Linked DNA regions of Homo sapiens. The protein of the gene in region 1 purifies or fractionates together with the protein of each later gene. This does not show direct contact. Each region holds a gene or a part of one and is shown in the gene's direction. Other genes may lie near its edges.

Evidence for each region.
Region 2: the proteins of RAB12 (region 1) and RILPL2 purify together in Homo sapiens (co-immunoprecipitation; one study listed by IntAct). This does not show direct contact.
Region 3: the proteins of RAB12 (region 1) and SMARCAL1 fractionate together in Homo sapiens (co-fractionation; one large-scale study listed by BioGRID). This does not show direct contact.

Annotation. Positions count from the first base shown.
Region 1 is NC_000018.10:8,607,506-8,613,091, forward strand, and holds the start of RAB12 (ras-related protein Rab-12), read left to right. Parts: upstream 1-1,931; 5' UTR 1,932-1,934; coding exon 1,935-2,448; intron 2,449-5,586. UniProt on the Homo sapiens protein: The small GTPases Rab are key regulators of intracellular membrane trafficking, from the formation of transport vesicles to their fusion with membranes.
Region 2 is NC_000012.12:123,414,539-123,417,111, reverse strand, and holds the end of RILPL2 (RILP-like protein 2), read left to right. Parts: intron 1-1,190; coding exon 1,191-1,221; 3' UTR 1,222-2,073; downstream 2,074-2,573. UniProt on the Homo sapiens protein: Involved in cell shape and neuronal morphogenesis, positively regulating the establishment and maintenance of dendritic spines. Plays a role in cellular protein transport, including protein transport away from primary cilia.
Region 3 is NC_000002.12:216,471,484-216,474,983, forward strand, and holds part of SMARCAL1 (SWI/SNF-related matrix-associated actin-dependent regulator of chromatin subfamily A-like protein 1), read left to right. Parts: intron 1-3,500. UniProt on the Homo sapiens protein: ATP-dependent annealing helicase that binds selectively to fork DNA relative to ssDNA or dsDNA and catalyzes the rewinding of the stably unwound DNA. Rewinds single-stranded DNA bubbles that are stably bound by replication protein A (RPA).

The DNA of each region.
Region 1 (5,586 bases):
GGGCAAGAAGGTCTTCAGCCCCACAAGCCATGCCACATGCATCTGCCTATTAAGACAGGCGGTGCTATTAATCAGAATGGACCAAATTAAAAATCTTGAGATTACCTTTGCAGATGCGTCTTGCTTTGTAAAATCACAGTATTCCTGAAAAGCCATGCATAAATCAGTTTCTTTAATCCCTTACATTTATATAGTGCCTTATGGTTGCAGCAGACTGCAGAGATTGTTAGTTGCTTTTTTCCTAACAATGCTAGAGGAAAGGAGGGGCCACTACTCTCATTCTCATAGAACAGAAGAGAAACCCACAGCTAAGAAATGTTCTGCGGCGGAGCACAGTGGCTCATGCCTGTAATCACAGCACTTTGGAAGGCTGAGGTGGGAGGATCACTTGAGGCCAGTTCAGGGTCTCACACTGTTGACTAGCCTGGTTAACAAACCAAAACCCCAACTGTACAAAAAATTTTTAAATTAGCCAGGCGTGGTGGCACGTGCCTGTGGTCTCAGCGGCTCAGGAGGCTAAGCAAGGAAAATCACTTGGGCCCAGGAGTTCCAGGCTGCCGTGAGCTGTGATCGCACCACTGCACTCCAGCCTGCGCAACAGAGCAAGGCTGTCTCAAAATCAAAACAAAACAAAATGAAAGAAAAAGAAAGAAAGAAGGAAAGAAAGAAAGTAAATTCCGTGATGGTAAGTGATGGATCTGTGTTTCAAATAATATAGAGGGATCATATTTTACATATTCTCAGAATTCATATTATAAAGATCCCTACAGTGACTGCACAGTTAAGAATGCTCTCATAGATGTAAACTTCCAATCTACACTGTGGGCAACGCTAGATTTTTACAAATCAGGTTTGCTGTGTAACATATGCGTGTACTGTGCATTACTAAACCTAGTTCTAAATACAGCACAGCTGAAATTTTGTGGGTAACGTGATCATTCGGCAAATGTTGCCAGCCCCTATCATATTCAGAACCCTGTGTTCTGAGATGCTCAAGTTCAAGCTGAGGAATTTGCTAAACAAATCTCTGGCAAGGAATCAGCAGTGATTTTCTGTATCCTTAAATCCTTCCAAACAGAAATGGCAAAACATACGACCCGAGTCCATAATTCCTAAAGTTTCAATCTTCTCGCACTGTTTGAGTTTTAACTCGCTTATTCCCCCAAAGGAGTATGCCATTTACTTAATTTAAAAATTAAACAGCATAAAAACTTCTGAACTCTGAGTGAGACAGCGATCAGAGTTAAAAATAACTGATTTCGCGCGTTTCCGTGCAAAATGGGAGACAGACGTGACGGAGAGAGACCGAGCAGTGCCACGGCCCGGTAGAGGGTGCGGGGGCTTGCACCCGCTGGTGTTTGTGAGAGAGCGCTGGTGTAGACGCGAACGCAGCGCAGGCGGCCCGGCGGCGCGGCCTCAGGTCGGGGCCTTTCCAGCGTTCCAGCTACACCGAGCGCGCGGGGGCGAAAACATGTGCATGGTGTTTGGGGACTGTGCGCATGGGAGTGTTTTCACTGTCAACCAGGGTTCTTTTTCTTATTTTGAACCCATTTTCATGATGCACCGGAATGCTGAAGTTCAAAATTGCCTACGGAGAATTTTAAGACTAAAACCACACTAAGTTTCTTGTGTTAACTATAAATGCGGGTCAGAGTGAAAGCCGAGTAGGGAGGAGTGAAAAGGGGGAAAAGGGAAGAGATAAGAGGAAGAAAAGATGAAAGAGCCGGCGGAAGAGGGAGGGAAGCGGGGGCGGGCAGGCGAGCAGAGGCAGGGAAAGAGCGGCGCGGGTTGCGGGAAAGCTCCGCGCGCAGTACCCAACCGAGGCCCGGGCGCGCGGTCCTCCCGCCGGCAGGGGGCGCCCACCCGCCCGCCTCCGGCCCCTCGCGGCCAGCCGCCCCGCCCGCGCCTGCGCTTCCTGCCCCTCCTCGTCCGGGATGCTGCTGCCGCTACTGCGGAGTAGCTGCTTCCCTTCCTCCTCTCCCGGCGGCGGCGGCGGCAGCGGCGGAGGAGGAGGAGGAGGGGACCCGGGCGCAGAGAGCCGGCCGGCGGCGCAGTTGCAGCGCGGAGCCCACGGGCCGCCGGGGCCGCTCCAGCGGGCGGAAGCCGAGCCCGGGGCCGACCCCCCGCGCGCGGCGGAGGCCGAGGGGGCGCCGGGGCCCGGGGCGCGCAGCCGGGGGGCGGGCGGCGGCGGGCGGCGGGCCGAGCGGGAGCCGCATGCGTGTATGGATCCGGGCGCCGCGCTGCAGAGGCGGGCCGGGGGCGGCGGCGGTCTGGGCGCGGGCTCCCCGGCGCTGTCGGGCGGCCAGGGCCGCCGGAGGAAGCAGCCCCCCAGGCCGGCCGACTTCAAGTTGCAGGTCATCATTATCGGCTCCCGCGGCGTGGGCAAGACCAGCCTGATGGAGCGCTTCACCGACGACACCTTCTGCGAGGCCTGCAAGTCCACCGTGGGTAAGGGCGCCACGGCGACCCTGGGCCGGGCCTCCTGGCGCCCGGGCAGGTGCCCTTCGCCCCGTGGGCTTCGAGTCTCATCGAGCCTGGGAGTCTTTCGGGGATGGGCCTCTCGGTGAAACTAGGGGCGGGGGTCTCCTTGGAGCGCCCTGCATCCCAATCCCAAAGCCTGGCAGAGGTTTTCGTGCCGCCTCCGGGCAGACCTGCCCTTGGCCCCCGGCCCTGCCTCAGAGGTCCTGGCAGCCCCCGGGGCCTGTGGGGGCGGCTCTCCACGGAAACTTCGGCCCTTAGCATACTCGCCCAAGAAAAAGCTGGGTTCGAGTGGAGCGCAGGCAGGCAGGGGAGTGAACGCCTAAGGCCGCTCTCGCCCGGCCCGCCAAGGCCAGCGCGCGCCGTCTGCTGCGGGTGTGATCCCTGCGCAACCAGGGCAGTTTTCTTATTTTGAACCCATTTTCAAGAAATGAAGTTTAAAGTCACCTATGGAGAATGTTAAAACTAAAACTACAGTAAGTTTCTCGTGCTAGCCGTACGTACGGGGCAGAGGAGCTTCAGCTGTATTTATCCATGACCTCAAACAACCCGGTGACTGGCGGGCATGGGGTTGATTCCTCCAGTACCGCTGTTTTCGGTGAGGGACAGGAGTGAAGTAAGTACAGGAACGCTCCAGGGTCAAGGAGGAAAACAGCCGTGGATCTGAAATGGAAACTGCAGGGGAAATTTTTTTAATTAAGTCATGCTTAGAGGACTTGACATTGAGATTTCTCAGTTGGATGTGGGTAGCAGTTGTTTCTATGGAAAACCCCTTAAAAGATGTCCAAACTAGGAGAACCCCGTTCTTTAAAATAAAGGGCAGTCACTTCCGTGATAGGAAGTGAGAGATTTCCCCAGGGGCGGTCCAAGAAACTGAGTAGTCAGGAGATTTGATAGAATTAAAAGCATAATTTCATGTAATTCTATTTATTAATAGTGTTATAACCAGTGGTAGTTCCAAGGCTGTCAGTACGATTTTGAGATGACTTGATTTGAAATTGTCATGTAACAAAACAGTACTACATTTAAAGTGTCTTATTGGAAAGTGAAACCTCCAATTTTTGTACTGTCTTTCTTGGTTTGTTTTCAAGAACTTACTTCCCTTAATGCTTTTTTGGAATAGATCATTTTGGAAATATTTGTGATGTCTGTACCATATGTTTTTAAAATGTTGTCGTTGGAGACATTATATTAAAATGAGTAGCATAACTATACCTGTTTCAAATATCCAGTCTTGGATCATGCAGAGTACAGGGAGTTGTTAAACCATCAAATGAGGGTTAGGCTGTTATTTTAGTACCTGACATAAATAAAGTAGGGTTAAATTCCGTTTAGAATTGTCAATATTTTATGGCTCCGTACTTCAGTATATAAAAATGAGAGATAATAGAGTTGCACTGTGTGATGAAGAGAAATCAGGTACCCATAGGTGGGTAACTGAGGGCTTGAGTGGATGGAGGGTGAGATGGATGAGCAAAGGTGTGCTTTAGAATGCAGAAGAGGAGAGAGGAAGAAGGATTTTCTAAGCCTGGCAGCAGTGGAGCAGCCCCCCACCTCTGGGGAGGGTTCCTTAGGGGACTTGGGAATGGATGCTGCGAGACCTTGACCGCCATGCTAAGGAGAATGGACCCGATCCTATGGGCACCTGGAACCAAAAGACTCCTTAGTAAGGCATTGGCACGAAAACAGTTTGGCAGAGTTGCATAGGATGTTTGGGAATAAGGAAGAGCTGCGGAGGATGCTTGGGAATAAGGAAGAAACCAGGAGGCAAGGAGACCAAGCAGTTTGTTTCTGTGTCCCTTAACAAACATGCACTTACCCGAGCACATACTCCCTACTCTGAGTGTGGTTGAATTTCTGTCTTGCTCATTTTTGTTTGCTTCACATGTAGCCTATAATACTTAGAGTACTGGAGTACTTTAGTACTCAGTGCGTGCTTCTAACTGTGGGATGTTCAGAGAATGATCATGGCCCCTGGCCTGCTGCAGAGCGGGAAGACACTGTGAGAACGCCAGCCAGCTCCACTTCAGTTTCTGCTTCAGAGTTGCTTTTCCCCTCCACTCATCAGATCGTTTGTTGAGCACCTACTGTGTGTTGGGTGTTATGCTACCCAGTGGGGATTCAGTGGTAAACAGGACATCGACTCTGTCCAGAAGTGGATCGGAGCTTCTGGGAGCTGCGTGACCGCTTGTCAGGGCAGTGACAGATGTGTATGGGTATTTGGGAGCACAGTGAAAGCGCCTCCAGTCGAGGCTAGTGATGAGGCCTGGTCAGAGAAGGCTTCCTCGTCATTGGAATGTTTGAAGATAAGTTTGTTCCTCTAGTTCCTTTAGAAAAATGCAAATTAAATATGGTACTGGGTGTGGTGTAGAATTGTGGTTGCCTTACCTGAACGCTTACCATTTGAGCAGTTAGCTCCCGGGGTTCTTCCCAGGCTGGTTTTTCTAGTTTCATCTTCATGTAGTGCAGTGAATTCCATATAGAGCAAGAGTCTCTTCCACAGTAGGAGTTTCTCCCTACCCTGTCAGGGCTGCTCGCGACAGCCGTCTGGGAAAGACCGTGAGCCTCACAGCATGGCCCAGGGAAGAGTCCCTGAGTGTGCCTGGACCAAGATGGGTCACTAGAGTGGTAGTATTGTCTAATTCCTAGGCTAGGAGAGTGTTTCCATTAAGAGCCTTTTTATTTTTATTTATTTATTTATTTTTGAGACAGAGTCTTGCTCTGTCACCCAGGCTGGAGTGCAGTGGTACGATCATGGCTCACTGCAGCCTCGACCTGCCAGGCTCACACAATCTTCCTGCCGCAGCCTCCTGAGTAGCTGGGACTGCAGGTGCACACCACCAAGCCCTTTTTTGATTTTTAGTAGAGACAAAGTCTTGCTATGTTGTCCAGGCTGGTCTCAAACTCCTAGTCTCAAGCACTTGGCCTCCCAAAGTGCTCAGATTACAGGCGTAAGCCACTGCTCCTGACCAGTAAGTGCCCTTTTAAAGTAAATGGGATTCACTTGAACTTTCTATAAAAGATCCGTAGTGGAAGTCCTTAGGGATTTGAGATGATGAACTATTATGTAAAATTATAAATGAGCAAAATGTTGTTTTTTGTATTGTT
Region 2 (2,573 bases), on another chromosome or scaffold:
TCTCAGGCTGGTCTGGAACTCCTGAGCTCAAGCAATCCGCCCGCCTCAGCCTCCCAATGTGCTAGGATTACGGGTGTAAGCCACTGCACCCAGCCTAATGGAAGTGTTTCTTCCACAAGGAAGGGTCTTCTGAGGTAAGATAATGAAAGAGCACCTCCACCCAGGTGTCCGAAGTGAAGGTGTTCATTTAGGACTTTCATTGGCTGTCTTGTTGCAAATCAGGCTTCCAGAAGGCATAAACTACTGGTTTCTTTCAGCGTCCTTCTACGGGAGCTTAGGACACCTAATTGGAGTTTGAGCCTAATAGAGCAAAAGTGAAATGTGTGTTCTGTGCATGAGCTAGCCTGAGGACATGTGGCTAGTGGCTAATGAGCGTGAGGCCACCCTTTCAGGGTCAGATAAACTTAATGAGCTACTAGAATCAATGAGTGAATGAATGAACGAATGAATGTGTTTTTTTGTTTTTGTTTTTGAGACGGAGTCTCAATCTGTCACCCAGGCTGGAGTGCAGTGGCACCATCTTGGCTCACTGCAAGCTCCGCCTCCCGGGTTTATGCCATTCTCCTGCCTCAGCCTCCCGAGGCAGCTGGGACTACAGGCGCCCGCCACCACACCCGGCTAATTTTTTGTATTTTTAGTAGAGACGGGGTTTCACCGTGTGAGCCAGGATGGTCTCGATCTCCTGACCTCATGATCTGCCTGCCTCCGTCTCCCAAAGTGCTGGGATTACAGGCATGAGCCACCGCACCCGGGTTTTTTGGGGTTTTTTTGCTTTTTCTTTTTCTTTTGAGATAGTGTCTTGCTCTGTCGCCCAGGCTGGAGTGCAGTGGCGCAATCTCGGCTCACTGCAACCTCTGCGTCCCGGGTTCAAGCGATTCTCCTGCCTCAGCTTCCTGAGTAGCTGGGATTACAGGTGTATGCCACCACGCCTGGTTAATTTTTTTTTTTTTTTAGAGATGGGGTCTCACTATGCTGCCCAGGCATGTCTGAGACTCCTGGGATCAAGTGATCCTCATCCTCTTGCCTCAGCTTCCCAAAATCATAGGATTACAGGCGTGAGCCACAATGCCTGGCCTGGACATATTTTTGAGTCAACAGCTGCAAGAGCTACTTAGAAATTTTACGGGGGTTGCTGTGCCCCTTGCTTTGTTCCTTCTGCTTACCCTGAACCCTCTCTCTCTCCACACCAGGTTCTTTTTTCGATCGGGGAAACAGACCTAGATCCAAGGCCACAAGTAAGGCTATGGCTCTGATTCTAGAAGACAACCTTCCAAGATGCCTGGCAAAACCACCTCCCTGTGCCACACAGACACACTAGGCCTGTGTATTTATTTCCCCTTCAAAGCAGACTGAGGAGGGAGGAGACGAGGTTCTCTTGGCATCACTTTCTCCCTGGCTGCAGAACTAGACACCCTTGAAGATTTGGCCTGGGCCAGTGAGACTGAAATCAAGAAAAACAGAAGGGATGTGCAGGGTGGGGGGGTCCACTTCCTGCTCCCATGTCAACCCCCAGGGCCTCCAGCGTGCAGACGCGTGTCCTACTCATCTGCTCCCACGGATGACCCTGGTCTTCAATGGTTAGCAGAAGGGAGAAAAGAAAGCAGGAAAATGTGCTATTGAGATTCCAGTGGTGACTTCACTGATATTTAGTGAATATTTGATTTAGCCAACATGCCTTTCTTTATGTGATTTTGTATTAAAGTAAAATGATTTTTATACTTTCTATAGCTTATCTAGAGTGGTCTCTTAGTTACGATGGTACACATGGTATATGTGTGTATATGTCATATATCTACATTTCATTGTATAATGAATCAATTGCATTCATTCAGTCTAAGCGATGCACGATTATCTGGTGTCACTATGAAGGGAAAGATTGCTGCAAACTAAAATGTTAAGAAGCTATCGATTTTAGGACTCATCCTGATTTCAGAGGTGTTAAGATGTGAACAAAATGCATTTAGGAATCAATGAAACAGAGAGCGGGTGTCTGCACTTCGCAAAGGAACTAATGAGGCTGCCGCAACCATTCCGTGAGCCTGTCTTCTTAGTAAATAACAGTGGCTTACTCAATGTGTTTCGCCTGCTCTGTGGATTATCTCATTTGTTCCTCATAACCTGGGGAGATGGGGACCGGTACCGGTGCACCAGTTTATAGATTTTTTTTTTTTTTTTTTTTGAGACGGAGTCTCTCGCTCTGTCGCACAGTCTGGAGTGCAGTGGCACGATCTCGGCTCACTACAAGCTCTGCTGCCTACGTTCACGCCATTCTCTTGCCTCAGCCTCCTGAGTAGCTGGGACTACAGGCACTTGCCACCACACTCGTCTAATTTTTTTGTATTTTTAGTAGAGACAGGGTTTCGCCGTGTTAGCCAGGATGGTCTCGATCTCCTGACCTCGTGATCCACCCGCCTCAGCCTCCCAAAGTGCTGGTGAGAGGTGACAGCGTGCTGGCAGTCCTCACAGCCCTCGCTCGCTCTCGGCGCCTCCTCTGCCTGGGCTCCCACTTTGGCGGCACTTGAGGAGCCCTTCAGCCCACCGCTGCACTGTGGGAGCCCCTTTCTGGGCTGGCC
Region 3 (3,500 bases), on another chromosome or scaffold:
GCTGGGAATACAGGTGCCTGCTACCATGCCCAGCTAATGTTTGTATTTTTATTAGAGACAAGCTTTCACTGTGTTGGCCAGGCTGGTCTCAAACTCTTGGCCTCTGGTGATCCACCCACCTTGGCCTCCCAAAGTGCTAAGATTACAGGCGTGAGCCACCATGCCCAGCCCACAGTGGCTATGATTCTCTTGTACATTTGTACATTTTTGGAGGGCAGTTTGACAGTAAATTAAGGCGTGCACTCAATTTTTCAAATTTTACTTCTAGGAATTTATCCTAAGGAAATCATCAGACTAGTCAGATTTATAAATGAGAATATTAGTCATGCTGTTTATAATATTCAATAATTAAAAATCTAAGTTTTTATCAACAGATATACTATTAAATAAATTATAGTCCATTCAGCCATAAAATATAATGTTGATCAGTGGTTCCTAACTTTGGAGATCATTGAACCCTATAAGAACCTGAAGAAACTCCAAAATTGAAGGTCTTGGTATCTGGTTAGTATATATTGCTATCGGAAGATGTCCATACTATGGACAAAAAGCTGTTGTATGTATAATAATTTTTAAAAATTGTCATGTTGTCCAGGCGCAGTGGCTCACGCCTGTAATCCCAGCACTTTGGGAGACTGAGGCAGGCAGATCACCCGAGGTTAGGAATTCTAGATCAGCCTGGACAACATGGCGGAACCCCATCTCTACTAAGAATACAAAAATTAGCTGGGCATAGTGGTGCATGCCTGTAATCCCAGCTAGTCAGGAGGCTGAGACACGAGAATTGCTTGAACCTGGGAAGCAGCGGCTGCAGTGAGCCGAGATCCTGCCACTGTACTGCAGCCTGGGTGAGAGACAAGACTCTATCTCAAAAATAAGATAAATAAAATAAAATAAATAAAATAGTCATCCATAGAAAAAAGCCTGATTAATATATACCAGTACATTAATGATGATTATCTCTAAGTAGTCATCATTATCTTTTTAGTTTTTCTGTATTTTTGCAATGAGTGTGTATTATTTTTATAATAAGAAAAATTACATTTTTAAAAATAAAGGAGAATTTAGAAAACAACAGAAAAGTAATAGAAGGAAATAAGCTAGGGAAACTATTAGCCACCTCTGTGACATACAAATAATGGTTTTTACATGTAAAGGTATTTCCTAACTCCCAGTAGGAAAAAAAAAAAGGGGGCAACCTGTATAAATAGATAGTTCATCAAAGAAATGACACCAGTAGCCAATTAAAAGATAACGAAAACACCCAATTTCACTAGTAATCAAGTTAGTGAAAAATAAAATTTTTTTTTTTACCCCATCAAGTCAGTAGAGGTTTTAAAAATGTGCGGTGCTCACTGTTGATGAAAGTGTACGAAGATGGACATGCTAATACATTAGTTATTGGAAAGCAATTTGGCAATAATATCAGGAGCCTTAAATTAAGTTTTTTCTTTTTGCTATCGTACTTTGGTTTGTAGTCCAATCTAAGAAAATCACCAAAAATTGGCATCCTCTTAAAAACTTTCCATTTTAATAGCATTCTTGAGGTATAATTGACATGCAGTAAACTGCACATAATGTGTACAATTAATGAGAATCAAGATAGGAAACATATCTGCCACCCGCTGCCCCCACCCCCAGAGTTTTCCTTTGTAATCACGCCCTCCTGCCCCTTCCCTCACCCTCCCATCCTCAAGCAACCTCTGGTCTACGGTCTGTCACTAAGGATTAGTTTGCGGATTTTTAGAATTTTATATAAATATGGAATATAATGGAATATAAATGTGGAGAAAAGGACATTCAGGATGTACTTTTTTTTTTTGAGATTTATCCATGTTGTTGTGTGTCTCGTTCCTTTTTAGTGTTCACTCCTTGGTTTTCCTTTTTTTTTTTTTTCTTTTTTGGTTATCTAGACCTGCAGATGTTCACTCCCTTTTAGTGCTAAATAACATCCCATTGTACATCATCTGTTCACTTGTTGATGGACATTTACCAACATATCCTTTTAGGAAAAATTTGAGACCCCTAAATCTGCAGAAATAGAAGGGTTAAATTATGCTGTTGCTGCATAATGACAAAGGGCCATTAAAAATGATATTTTAGAACACTTAACAATACAGTTTTACTTATAATGTGTTTTATTGGGGGAAAACAGGATATAAAACTTTTTATTTAAAAGATATATATACCATACACATCAAAAAAAGAGACAGGAAAAAGTAGATTGGTTAGATTACTAAATGTTTTTATTTTCCTTATCATGTTTATCACTAGCAAGAATAAATAAATGCCATTTAAAAGAAAATAACTAAACTAAACATGCAGTTACCATACAACACAACAATTGACTTTTGAGCATTTTTCTTTGGGAAATGAAAACTTAGGTTAACAGAAAAACTTGTACACACATGTTCATAGCAGCTTTATTTGTAGTAGCCCCAAACTGGAATCAACTCAGATGTCCTTCAACAGATGGATGGTGAAACTATGGTATATCCATACTGTGGGCTATTTCTCAACAATAAAAAGAAGAAAATTATTGATACAGGTAACAACTTGGATGAATCTCCAGAGAGTGCTGAATGCAAAGGCCCATTCCAAAAGGTTATATGCTGTGCAATTTATATAACATTTGTATAGCATTCTTTTTTTTTTTTTTTTTTTTTTTTTTTTTGAGACAGAGTCTCGCTCTGTCACCCAGGCAGGAGTGCAGTGGTGCCATCTTGGCTCACTGCAACCTCTGCCTCCCGGATTCAAGTGATTCTCCTGCCTTGGCCTCCTGAGTAGCTGGGATTACAGGCGCACACCAGCACATCTGGCTAATTTTTGTATTTTTAGTAGAGGCGGGGTTCCGCCATGTTGGCCAGGCTGGTCTCAAACTCCTGACCTCAGGTGATCTACCTGCCTTGGCCTCCCAGAGTGTTGGGATTACAGGCATGAGCCACTGTGCCTGGCCTATAGTGCATTCTTGAAAAAAAAAAAAAAAATTGGCCAGGTGCAGTGGCTCACGCCTGTAATCCCAGCACTTTGGGAGGCCGAGGCAGGCGGATCACCTGAGATCAGGAGTTTGAGACCAGCCTGGCCAACATAGTGGAACCACGCCTCTACTAAAAATACAGAAATTAGCCAGATGTGGTGGTGTGCGCCTGTAATCCCACCTAGTTGGGAGGCTGAGGCAGGAGAATCACTTGAACCCCAGGGGGCGGAGGTTGCCGTGAGCCAAGATCGTGCCACTGCACTCCAGCCTGAGTGACAAGAGTGAAACTTCATCTTAAAAAAGAAAAAGAAAAAAAATGTTTTTAGAAATTCAGGTCAGATTAGTGGCTATCAGGAGCTAAGGACCGTGGAAAGAGGAGGGAGGTAAAAGGATCCTTGCAATGTTGGAGTTGTTGAGTATCTTAACATTGGAGGTGAATATATGAAAACCTACACAGGTGATAAAATTGTGTAGAACACACACATACAGTAAAACAAGAAATCTGAAGATCAGTGGATTGTAT